Linked DNA regions of Homo sapiens: region 1 is linked to region 2. Evidence: fine-mapped expression QTL. A gene starts in region 2. The other region holds a variant in brackets. All regions are shown on one strand. Distances are from middle to middle. Region 1 overlaps NCKAP1L (NCK associated protein 1 like). Region 2 holds the start of PDE1B (phosphodiesterase 1B).

Evidence for each region. PIP is the estimated chance that this variant, and not a neighbour inherited with it, causes the effect.
Region 1: its variant is fine-mapped to the expression of PDE1B in monocytes after R848 (Quach 2016, PIP 0.90).

Annotation. Positions count from the first base shown.
Region 1 is chr12:54,499,650-54,505,029 of GRCh38, forward strand. NCKAP1L (NCK associated protein 1 like) reads left to right here. Exons shown (of 31, transcript NM_005337.5): 3 at 884-976. Among named protein-coding and RNA genes, the nearest start is that of NCKAP1L, 4.6 kb to the left of the region's middle. The variant G/A (reference allele first, on the strand shown) is at 3,057.
Region 2 is chr12:54,547,376-54,552,687 of GRCh38, forward strand. It overlaps PDE1B (phosphodiesterase 1B), which reads left to right and starts at 2,226. Exons shown (of 16, transcript NM_000924.4): 1 at 2,226-2,397; 2 at 2,485-2,610. The coding sequence starts at 2,498. NCKAP1L (NCK associated protein 1 like) reads left to right here. Exons shown (of 31, transcript NM_005337.5): 31 at 1-868. RefSeq lists a silencer at 2,151-2,210 and an enhancer at 2,776-3,404.

The DNA.
Region 1 (5,380 bases), 48 kb before region 2:
GAGATAAGATGGGATTCTTCCAGCATAAGCTGGAGCGAATCATCACCCCTTTTCCATTGCAAGATTCATGGGAAAACATTGTTTTTGTACAAGACAGCTCTATCAACCCAGCAGGGTACATGTATTTTATTGTTTCTGTTTCCCACTCACTGTTTCCTTGCTGTTTGTCTTAGATTTCTGCATCTAATGGGATATCTCTACTTTTCCCTTATTAAATGTTAACCCTAGATTTTTCACCCATCTTTGTAGCATCTTTGAATTCTGTTTCTTTTGACTTTGATATAAATAGTATATCTGTTCATCTGAAAGGGTGCTTAAAATTTCCTCTCATTTAGCCCTCTGTATCTAGTCAGGATCACATGCAACCATTCTACCTAGATAGACAATCTCCTTTGTTTAAAGACCTTCAGAGCACTGAAGCGTTTCTAACTTCCTCTGTCAGTATATTTCAACTCTCTTTCTTTTTCTTTTCTTTTCTTTTTTTTTTTTTTTGAGATGGAGTCTTGCTCTGTCACCCAGGCTGGAGTGCAGTAGCACAATCTTGGCTCACTGCAACCTCTGCTTCCCAGGTTCAAGTGATTCTTCTGACTCAGCCTCTCGAGTAGCTGGCATTACAGGCGCCCGCCACCACGCCCAGCTAATTTTTGTATTTTTAATAGAGACGGGGTTTCACCAGGTTGGCCAGGCTGGTCTTGAACCCCTGACCTCAGGTGATCCGCCTGCCTCGGCCTCCCAAAGTGCTGGGATTACAGGTGTGAGCCACTGCGCCCGGCCTCAACCCTCTTTAAGAATGTTTTAGGTATAACCACTGTTCTTCTTGAGTTATTTGGATCAATTGTCTTATTTTGCACTTTTTTATTGTTTTGTTTTGTGTTTCTCTCAGCAACATTTAGGACCAGTACATCGTGAAAAAGCCGAGATAATTAGATTCCTCACCAACTACTACCAGTCATTTGTGGATGTCATGGAATTTCGGGTGAGCTCTCTTGAGCCGTTTCCAATGTAGGCAAGGTCTTTCAGAGGCTATTCTTTCTTTAGATGTTCATGTATTTGCTTAAAACAAGTTCTTGAAAAAATGAGAGAGATGTACTAATATGGAAGGATATCTAAGTTGTATTGTTAAATGAAAGCAAATTTCAAAATAGTATATGATACATCACATTTCTATTTTAAAAGAGTATGTATGTATATGTATTTAGTAAATATCTAGGAAAGATCTGGACTATTTTACATTAAACTGTTAAAAATAACTACCTTTGGGGACTGATTATGACTGGCTTCAATTTAGTAGGCTATGCATGTTTTTTCTATTTTAAAAATTATGGTAAAATACACATAACATAAAATTTACTGTCTTAACCATTTTTAAGTATACAGTTCAGTGGTACTAAGTATATTAATAATGCAACCATCTTTTCACCTTGTAAACCTGAAACTCTCTACCCTTTATGCAATAATTCCCCATTTCCCTTTCTTTCCAGCCCCTTGCCATCACAATTCTACTTTGTTTTTGTGATTTTGACTATTCTAAGTACCTTATATAAGTAGAATCATAAAGCATTTGTCTTTTTGTGGCTGGCTTATTTCATCAGCCTAATGTCCTTAAGGTTCATCCCTGTTGTAGCATATTGTAGAATTTCCTTTTTAAGCTAAATAATATTCCATTGTATGATTATACTACATTTTGCTTATCCGATCGTATGTTGATGGACACTTAGGTTGCTTCCAAGTTTTAGCTATTGTAAATGATGCTGCTATGAACGTGGGTGTACAAATATATCTTCAAAACCCTACTTTCAATTCTTTTGATTATAAACATGAAAGTGGAAATGCTGGATCATATGATAATTCTATTATTAACTTTTTTTTTTTTGAGTTAGGGTCTCACTCTGTTGCCCAGGCTGGAGTGTAGTGGTGCAATCACAGCTCACTGCTGCCTCGACCTCCTAGGCTCAGGTGATCCTCCCACCTCAGCCTCTTGAATAGCTGGGGCTAAAGGCACATGCCACCACACCTGGCTAAGTTTTTATATTTTTTGTAGAGATGGGGTATCCCCATGTTGGCCAGGGTGGTCTCAAACTCCTGGGCTCAAGCTATCCACCCACCTCGGCCTCCCAAAGGCTGGACTGTGCCGGCCTATTTTTAACTTTTTGAGGAACTGCTATACTGTTTTCCACAGTGGCTGTACTCTTTTACATTCTCACCAACGGTGCATAAGGGCTATAATTCCTCCACATCCTCGCCAACAATTGTTATTTCGTTTTTTTGACAGTAGCCATCCCAGTGGGTGTGAGGTATTATCTCATCTAAGTTTTTATTTGAATTTTTGCTAATGATTAGTGATAATGAGCATTTTTCATAGGCTTATTGGCCATTTATATATCTTCTTTGAAGAAATGTCTGTTTCATTCTTTGACCATTTTTGAATTGGATTTTTTGTGTGTGTTGAGACTTAGGAGTTCTCTATACAGGTTGAGTATTCCTTATGGAAAATTCTTGAGACCAGAGTGTTTTGAATTTCATATGTTTGCAGATTTCAGAATATTTGCATTAGGCAGTTGAGCATCCCTAATATGAAAGTCTGAAATTTGAAATGTTTCAATGAGCATTTCCTTTGAGTGTCTTGTTGGTGCTCAACAGGTTTCAGATTTTGGAGCATTTTGGATTTTCGGGTTAGGGAAGCTCAACCTGTATAAACTATATATCTTTGCATTATTTGAGCTTTAAAAATTTCAAGTATTTTTCCACAATATTTTATACAAACCTACTGTAAAATTTCTAGTATAGTACAATGAATATTGTTATACTCTTCTCCTGGATCTCCTAATTGTTAGTATTTTGCCACATTTTCTTATCCTTCTCTATTTTTTAATGAACTATTTGAGTTAGCCTCATACATCATGACATTTCCTTTCCCAAATACTTAAGCATACATTTGCTAAGAGCAAGAATATTTTCTTACCCAACCCTAATATAATTATCATACTCAGGAAATCATACACAGGAAATATAACATACACAGGAAATATATCATACACAGGAAATATAACATTATG[G/A]CTGGGTGCTGTGGCTCACGCCTGTAATCCCAACACTTTGGGAGGCTGACGGGGATGAATCGCTTGAGCCCAGGAGTTTGAGACCAGCCTGGGCAACATGGTGAAACCCCATCTACACAAAAAAAAAAAAAAAAAAAAAAAAATTAGCTGGGCATGGTAGTGAGTGCCTGTAGTCCCAGCTGCTTAGGAGGCTGAGGCAGGAGGATCACTTGAACCTGGGAAGTCAAGGCTGTAGTTAGCCATGATTATGCCACTGGCCACTGTACTCCAGCCTGGGTGACACAGTGAGACTTTGTCTCAAAAAAAAAAAAAAAGAAACAAAACCCCACCCAAACTAATATACAGCCCATATTCACATTTCTCCAGTTGTCTCAAGGATAATACATTGGATTTAGTTATGTCTCCTTCATCTTTAATCTAGAATGATTTCCAGCCTTTGTCTTGTATGACACTGACATTTTTGAAGAGTCTGGGCTAGTTATTTTTGAGAAATCCTTCAATTTGAAATTGTCTTATTGTTGATAGTTTTTGGGAGCAATACTACATGGATGATATTTTATTTGAATTTTAAATAATGAGCATGTATTATTTTTATAAACATAAAAAATAAAAATTAATATGATGTTTTTGAAAGAAAAATTGATAAGGTATTATTAAAATTTTAAAAATTAATGTCGTAATTTTACATTTAGAAATTTGTCATAAGGAAACAGAATTGTTTCATGGGGAAATAAAAAAAGGAAACAAATGCAAAGACATATGTATAAGAATATACTCCATTGCATTATTTATGATAGTTACAATGTGATAATTGATATATCCAATAAATAAAGGTTTGGTTAAAAGTTCAGAGTATGTGCCCACAAATGAATATTCTGTAGCTGTTAAAGTATACACACATATATATATATACACACACATATATATTTTTTCTTTTCTTTTTTTTTTTTTTGAGGCGGAGTCTTACTGTGTTGCCCAGGCTGGAATACAGTGGCGTGATCTCGGCTCACTGCTGCCTCCGCCTTTGGGTTAAAGCGAGTCTCCTGCCTCAGCCTCCTGAGTAGCTGGGATTACAGGCACGTGCCACCACGCCTCGTTAATTTTTGTATTTTTAGTAGAGATGGGGGATCTCACCATGTTGGCCAAGCTGGCCTCGAACTCCTGACCTCAAATGATCCACCTGCCTCGGCCTCCCAAAGTGCTGGGATTACAGGCATGAGTCACTGCACCCAGCCAATAATATATTTTTTATATTAATTGGTATAGAAAATGTTCATCATATGTTGTTTAATGTAAAAGCAAATTGCAGTAAGACAGTTTAAGACAGATGTAAGATGTAAGATGTCCCTAAAATGTATATTTACATAGGTAAATATGCATATAAAGAAGATTGGAATTTCTGATCGGTGGGATTATAGTTTAAAAAAGCTAGTTAAAATTAAACTTGTCGGTATTTTCTAGTTTTTTCTACAATAAACATGTATTATTTATGTATTCAAGAAATAATGCAAATTTTAGCCCTCTGAGCAACCCAAGCTTGTGGTGGTGTTATAGTATTTTTTCAGATGATACAAGAATAATGTGTTCTGTGCCTACCCTAGGAAGCAAATCCAGGATATTCAGTAGATCACATAGTGAAGAGAGAAGTGAGGACAAGAAGGACTGTAATGTATGAACGAGGGTCAGGTCAGAGAGTATTCATTGTGGAATTGAGAGTAGTGGTTAGCAAGAGGGTAGGTGCTGGTGGAGGCAGTGGGAAGAATGCTGGAAGCACATAAAAAAAGTCTCTTACTGAGAAAAGTTGAAGGGCAAAGGAGATTTTAGAACACCTTCTGGTTGCTGCAGTGGTAAATAAAGTTCTGAGCCCAAGGTGTTTGGTACGGCTTGTTTAGGAAAGGAGGGGAAATAGGGACATTGAAGTATGATGCACTGTTAAGTAGGCCCTGAATTAGACAGACTTGGTTTCAAATCTCAGCTTTACCACTTACAAACTGTATGACTTTAGATAAGAAACTCTTTAAATTCCAGTTTCCTTATCTATAAAATGAGGAAATAAGATTTACTGTGTGAGGCGTCTGTGAGAATTAAATGAGATAATGCATGGACAACATCTAGCTTGGTGTTTAGCATATAGTAAGGCAATAGACCAACACATGTTATTTCCGTTCCCTTCTGATTCTTGTCTGTAGAGAATAAGACCTGCGTAGTGACATTGGTTGTGTGAGTGGCTGAAAGTGAATTTCAGCTATATTCCACTGGAATTTGGGTGTAGGCTGGAGTTGTAGAAAGGCATTCCTAGCAAATGAGGAAGTATAGACCTAGAC
Region 2 (5,312 bases):
ATTTATTTTTATTTTTACTTTTTCCATCAAACTGTGTTGTCTATGAAGTTTTCCCATTTATTAAATGAAGGGAATTAGAGTGGATGAACTCTAATGTCTCTTTCACGAATAACTTTGTGTGTGTGTGCGTGTGTGTGTGTGTGTGTGTGTGTGTGTGTGAATTAGCCTTAAAATGAATCAGGAGCAGGGGGTCTTGGGAGAGCAGGATGTGACACTGTGTTAACAAGAAATGTTGAGAGAGCCCTCTGGATGTATGTCTTGCCTCTTTCCCACCTATTCTAGTTTAAAGACCTGCCTAAATTTGGAAACTCCTTAGCTCTAATCCTAATTTACTAATTAGAGCTCTTTAGCACCATCCTAATTTGCAATTCTTTTGTAGTTTCCAGCCCATTTCATTTTCAGTTGATAAGGAGGAGATTGCTCCCAAATTTTCAGAAATGGACTGTGTAGGAGTGTGACTAGGGTCTCAGATGCAGCCATTTCTTGGCTGGGTCTGGGGAAAAGCCAAGGGATGTGTGCTAAAGGTAGATGGACAGAGGGTGGGAAGTCCCTTATTATTTCCACTTTTTTCTCCATCTCTGACTCTGCCATCTCTTTCTGCCTCTGTACTTTCTGGGAGCTGGTTCTGCTGATACTTCTGCTGAATCTAAATGCTGACCTAACTTGGCAATTCTTTTATGTTAGGAGTCTTAGCTGTGACAGTTCATCCGCTTCTTCGCCCTTCCATTTCACTTCTTTTCTCCTTCTCTGACTGGGAGAGGAGGAGCCTCCACTCAGTATTTAGAACAGAGTAAATACCTTCTCCTGATCACTCCTCCTTCCAACCTCCAGAATTTTTTGAAATTAAAATTCACATTCTGGGATCCTGGATTAGTGGCCTGTTTTGGATTCAGTAGTTAGTGAATATATCTCCACTTTCTGTTGACATAGGAGTTTCCCCAATGCCAAAGCAGGTGGTCATTAAGGGAGAGAACAATATGGAGCAAGAGAGGTGGTTCCTGCAAGAGTCCTAGGTAGGACTCGGTTGGATGGAGGAGGCTTTGCCCTTTTACAAGGTCTTGAGTTCAAATTCCAGTTCACTCCTTCCACAAATGTTTATTAACCAGCTAGGCTGTTTTGTGCTGGGCCTTTAGCTCCTAGATTTCTTTCTCTGAAGACAGAACAGAAAAAATGAGCTGGAAGTGCTTCAGGAGGGGTTTTGATATCAGGAATGCTTTCCTGGCTGTGTAGAGTTATTACCTAGTCAAAGAAGAAGATGTTAAGCTGGGTGCGGTGGCTCACACCTGTAATCCCACCACTTTGGGAGGCCGACGTGGGCGGATCACGAGGTCAGGAGTTGGAGACCAGCCTGGCCAATATAGTGAAACCCCATCTCTACTAAAAAATACAAAAATTAGCCGGCGTGGTGGCCCGCGCCTGTAGTCCCAGCTACTCCAGGAGGCTGAGGCAGGAGAATCGCTGGAACTGGGGAGGCAGAGGTTGCAGTGAGCCGAGATCGCGCCACTGCACTGCAGCCTGGGCGACACAGACTCCTTCTCAAAAAAAAAAAAAAAAAAAAAAAAAAAAAAAAAGATGCCTGCTCTGGAGAGCTTTGAACTTGGAAGAAATTCCTATCTGCTAGGCGGGCAGGCAGAAGTACCATGGAGAAGGCCACAGTCTTGGAGACAGGTGGGGAAGATCAAGCTGAGGGACCCGAGGCCAAGTGTGGGATGCCATCACAGCTCAGGGCACACCCTGAACTTTTCCAAGACAGGAGCACAGGTGGGGTCTGGTCCGACTGGGTTCCGAGTCCAGATCTAGCAGGGAAAGATGTGTGCTCATCCCCTACCCCGCACTCAGACATGGGACACGCAGGCAGCTAGGCACACGTGGATACATGGAACCACAACCACATACACAGAAACTCAAAACACACGGAGAGAACCCACACAACCACCCACACCGAAGTCCAGCCCGCCGCCTCCGCTGCACTCTGTAAACACGCACTCACATCCGCCAGTACAGGGCACACGCAGCCACTCGTCCCCGGCGCCTGTGTGCGTGCGCTCGCCCTTGGGCGCTTCTGTCTGTGTGTGCCCCCGGCTTCCAATCGTTCCTTTGGGAGGGGGAGGAGTGGCTGTGAGGAGTGAGAGACTGGCGGGCAGGCTGAGGAGAAGGGAGGGAGAGCAGAGGGAGGGGGGAACCCGGCCGGGGGAGGAGGAGAGAGGCGAGGAGGCGGCTCTGGCAGCGCGCGGCGGCGGCGGCGGTAGCGGCAGCAGCAGCGGCGGTGCGGAGAGCTTGGACTGGGAGCCCAAAGCTCGGCTGGGCAGCGGGAGAGGAGGAGCCGCAGGAGCTGCAGCTCTGCCAGCTTGGGCCGAGCCTAGAGACACCGGCCTGGCTGGTCCACGCCAGCCGCAGGTGGGAAGGGCCTGGGATGGGGGGTGAGGGTCTCTCGGCTGGGGCTGAAGCTGAGCCGAGGTGCTGTCTCCTCCTTCTGTTCCGTAGACCGTGGCTGAGCATGGAGCTGTCCCCCCGCAGTCCTCCGGAGATGCTGGAGGAGTCGGATTGCCCGTCACCCCTGGAGCTGAAGTCAGCCCCCAGCAAGAAGATGTGGATTAAGCTTCGGTCTCTGTAAGTCCCCGGCCCGGGAATGGGGGGAAGGGACCTTAGGGAGCCTGAGCGGGAGGAGGAGGGGGGATAACTGGAGCAGGGCTGTGGGCTGGTAGATTCTCTTTGGCACAGATGTTGGCAGGTGCGAGGAAGCACGGCCCTGACACGCGTGGCCAGGCCACATGTGCAAGGCATGTGCGGAGCAAGCTGGCCAGTTGGAGCGGGCTTAGGAGTTGCAAAGGTAACGATGTGCCTGTGCCTGTGGACCCCAGGCTGACACACGCAGCGCCTAGAGGCAGCACAGTATATGCAGTGTGGCAGGGCTGCAGGAGGGCAGTAGAGGTGCCAGGCTGACTCACACATATCCATGTGCAGAGTTGTGCAGATGTGAGCCACATGACATGTGTGTGCATGAGTGAGCGTGGGTCACAGAGGTATGTGGAGTGATTGCACACAGCTGTAGATCTACTGCATGGGAATACTTGTGCCAACCTGTGGGTCATATGTATCTCAGTTGGGATTGGTAGTTTCTGCCTCATGCACAGGAAGTGGGGTGGGGGTTACCCCATGCCTGAGCTGCTCATCTCTTGGGGCCTGGAAACTCACTCTATGTATTAATGATGAGGGGACCCACGTGGAATCTGGAGGGGGGGTTGGAGCCCCCACCTGGAAGCTGAAGGAGGTGATGATGGTGAAGAAATATTGATTGACAAAGGCAAGGTAACTGGCTTAATCAGAGGCTTTTTGTTTATATAGGGTCTTCCAGGATCTCCAAGCACATTTGGGCATCTTTTCCTATTGTTGCAGTACCAGGGCATGTGGGGAGGAATAAATGGGGGAAGGAAGAACTCAGGTATCTGATACTCCAGTCCCAGGGGAGGAAAGGAACTTTTCCCCTGCTCCTTAGAAAAAAAAGAGGATTGGGTCAAAGACAAGCCATGCACCATGTTTATCTCCCAGTCAGCTGCTGCCATTGGGAAATCTCCGCAGTCTGTTGATTCTTAATCAGGGAACAAGAGAAGATGTCCCTCTCTCCGAGATGAATCCATGGCCCCAGGAAAGAGGAAACAGATAGGAGACTATGGATGTTTAGAGAGGAAACACAGTAAACATAGCCCTGAACCCAGTTCCTCCTCAATGTTCTCCATAGTGAGCACCGAAGCTTTCTATTTCTGGGTTCTGGGAGAGGGAGAGATGGGGGTAGGGGATGGATAGATGCTTATGTTGTATTGTTCTTTAAATACTTCACCTATGGTGATAAGATGACACCTTTTTATGGCAGATGGGTCTGATTTATACACTAGCTACTTGGAGAGGCGTTAGGGAGAACTGAGGCATAGTGGGCAACAAGGCTTGGAATCCAAATGTACTTCTCAGTCCTCCTCCTTGGCTGCCTCTGGCCAATCCAATTTGCTGGGCTCTATGAAGCACAGCCTTGGAATGAGTTCTGGGATGAAGAAATGGAAAACCAGATTGAACTGATTTTTGTTGGGAGGAGCACTGTGTGATTCTTGATAGAAAATGACGCTGCGTTAATGGTAAATGAGCTGGGGAAAGGGGCAGATAAGGAAGTAGTTGAAAGGTAAAGAAGGGCCCCAGGTCCATAAATGGGAGAATTCAGGATGGCTCCCCTAACACTAGTGGCTCATCATACTTACCTTGCCTGTATTCCAGGTAACAGGGCCCTGCGAAAGAGTGGGTATTACTAGTTTCACTATCTCCCACACATTTCTAACCAAAAGCCTTTCCTGAAAATGAATTGTTGTTTCTTCCTTTAGTGTGAGAAGTGCTCAGTGGTGAGAGAAGAGGATTCCCAGAAGGAGGCATGAAACCTGGGAAGAGAAGGGAGTAGAGGCATCTGTCTCTCCAGAGTGCCTTAGCTGAGATGTCCTTACATGAGATTAGGGTGGACAAGGATCCCTATTCTTATTGATTAGATCATTCTGGTCTTCACTCACTTCAGCAGTCTGGTCCTTAAGAATGCTAGCTTTGTACAATAAATTTACAAGTAAAAAATAAAGCTAGCTACATGTAATATAACTTACCCAAAAAAGTACAATCTCCGGATTATTAATTGGCAGGAATAGATTCCCAGTCTTACGTCCTTAAAGCAGAGAAAGACCTTGAAATCAAGGTAGATCCCAACTTGATCTATGTTGATGGCCTACTGGATTTTGCCTTTTTGAATATTGGGGAGGCTTTGACTATCAGATGAAGGGAAATAAAAGGATTTAGGGCTTTGCTGGGTAAGAGGTGGGAGTTTCCCAACCCTCTCAATGGGATGGTTTCTGAATAGGTGAGAAAGGAGATGTTCCCCCTTTTAAGTGGAAATAAAGATCCCCCTGCCCCTTTGGTCAAGGTGGGAAGGGGTTGCTAAGTCTGGAAATAGGAAATAGACATGATTATCTTAGGACTGGGTACTGCTTGGAAATGGAAACATGGCATATATACTTGTATGTATTTATCTAACTATCTATCTAGATTCTTCTACTCAACACATCCTATTCCCCCCCTTCTACCCTTTTAATTTCTAATCAGGACATCCAGACTTTCTTCAGGGAGACTAGGCCTGGTGTTTTTGACTCTGGATAAAAAGCCCACACTAATATAATAGTGCAGGGCAATTTTTTGTTGGGAAGAGCATCCAAGAATTCTGTTTCCCACACTAAGACCCTGTCAAAAATAAATTCAGAATCTAATCTGTATCATATGAGCTGAAGAGA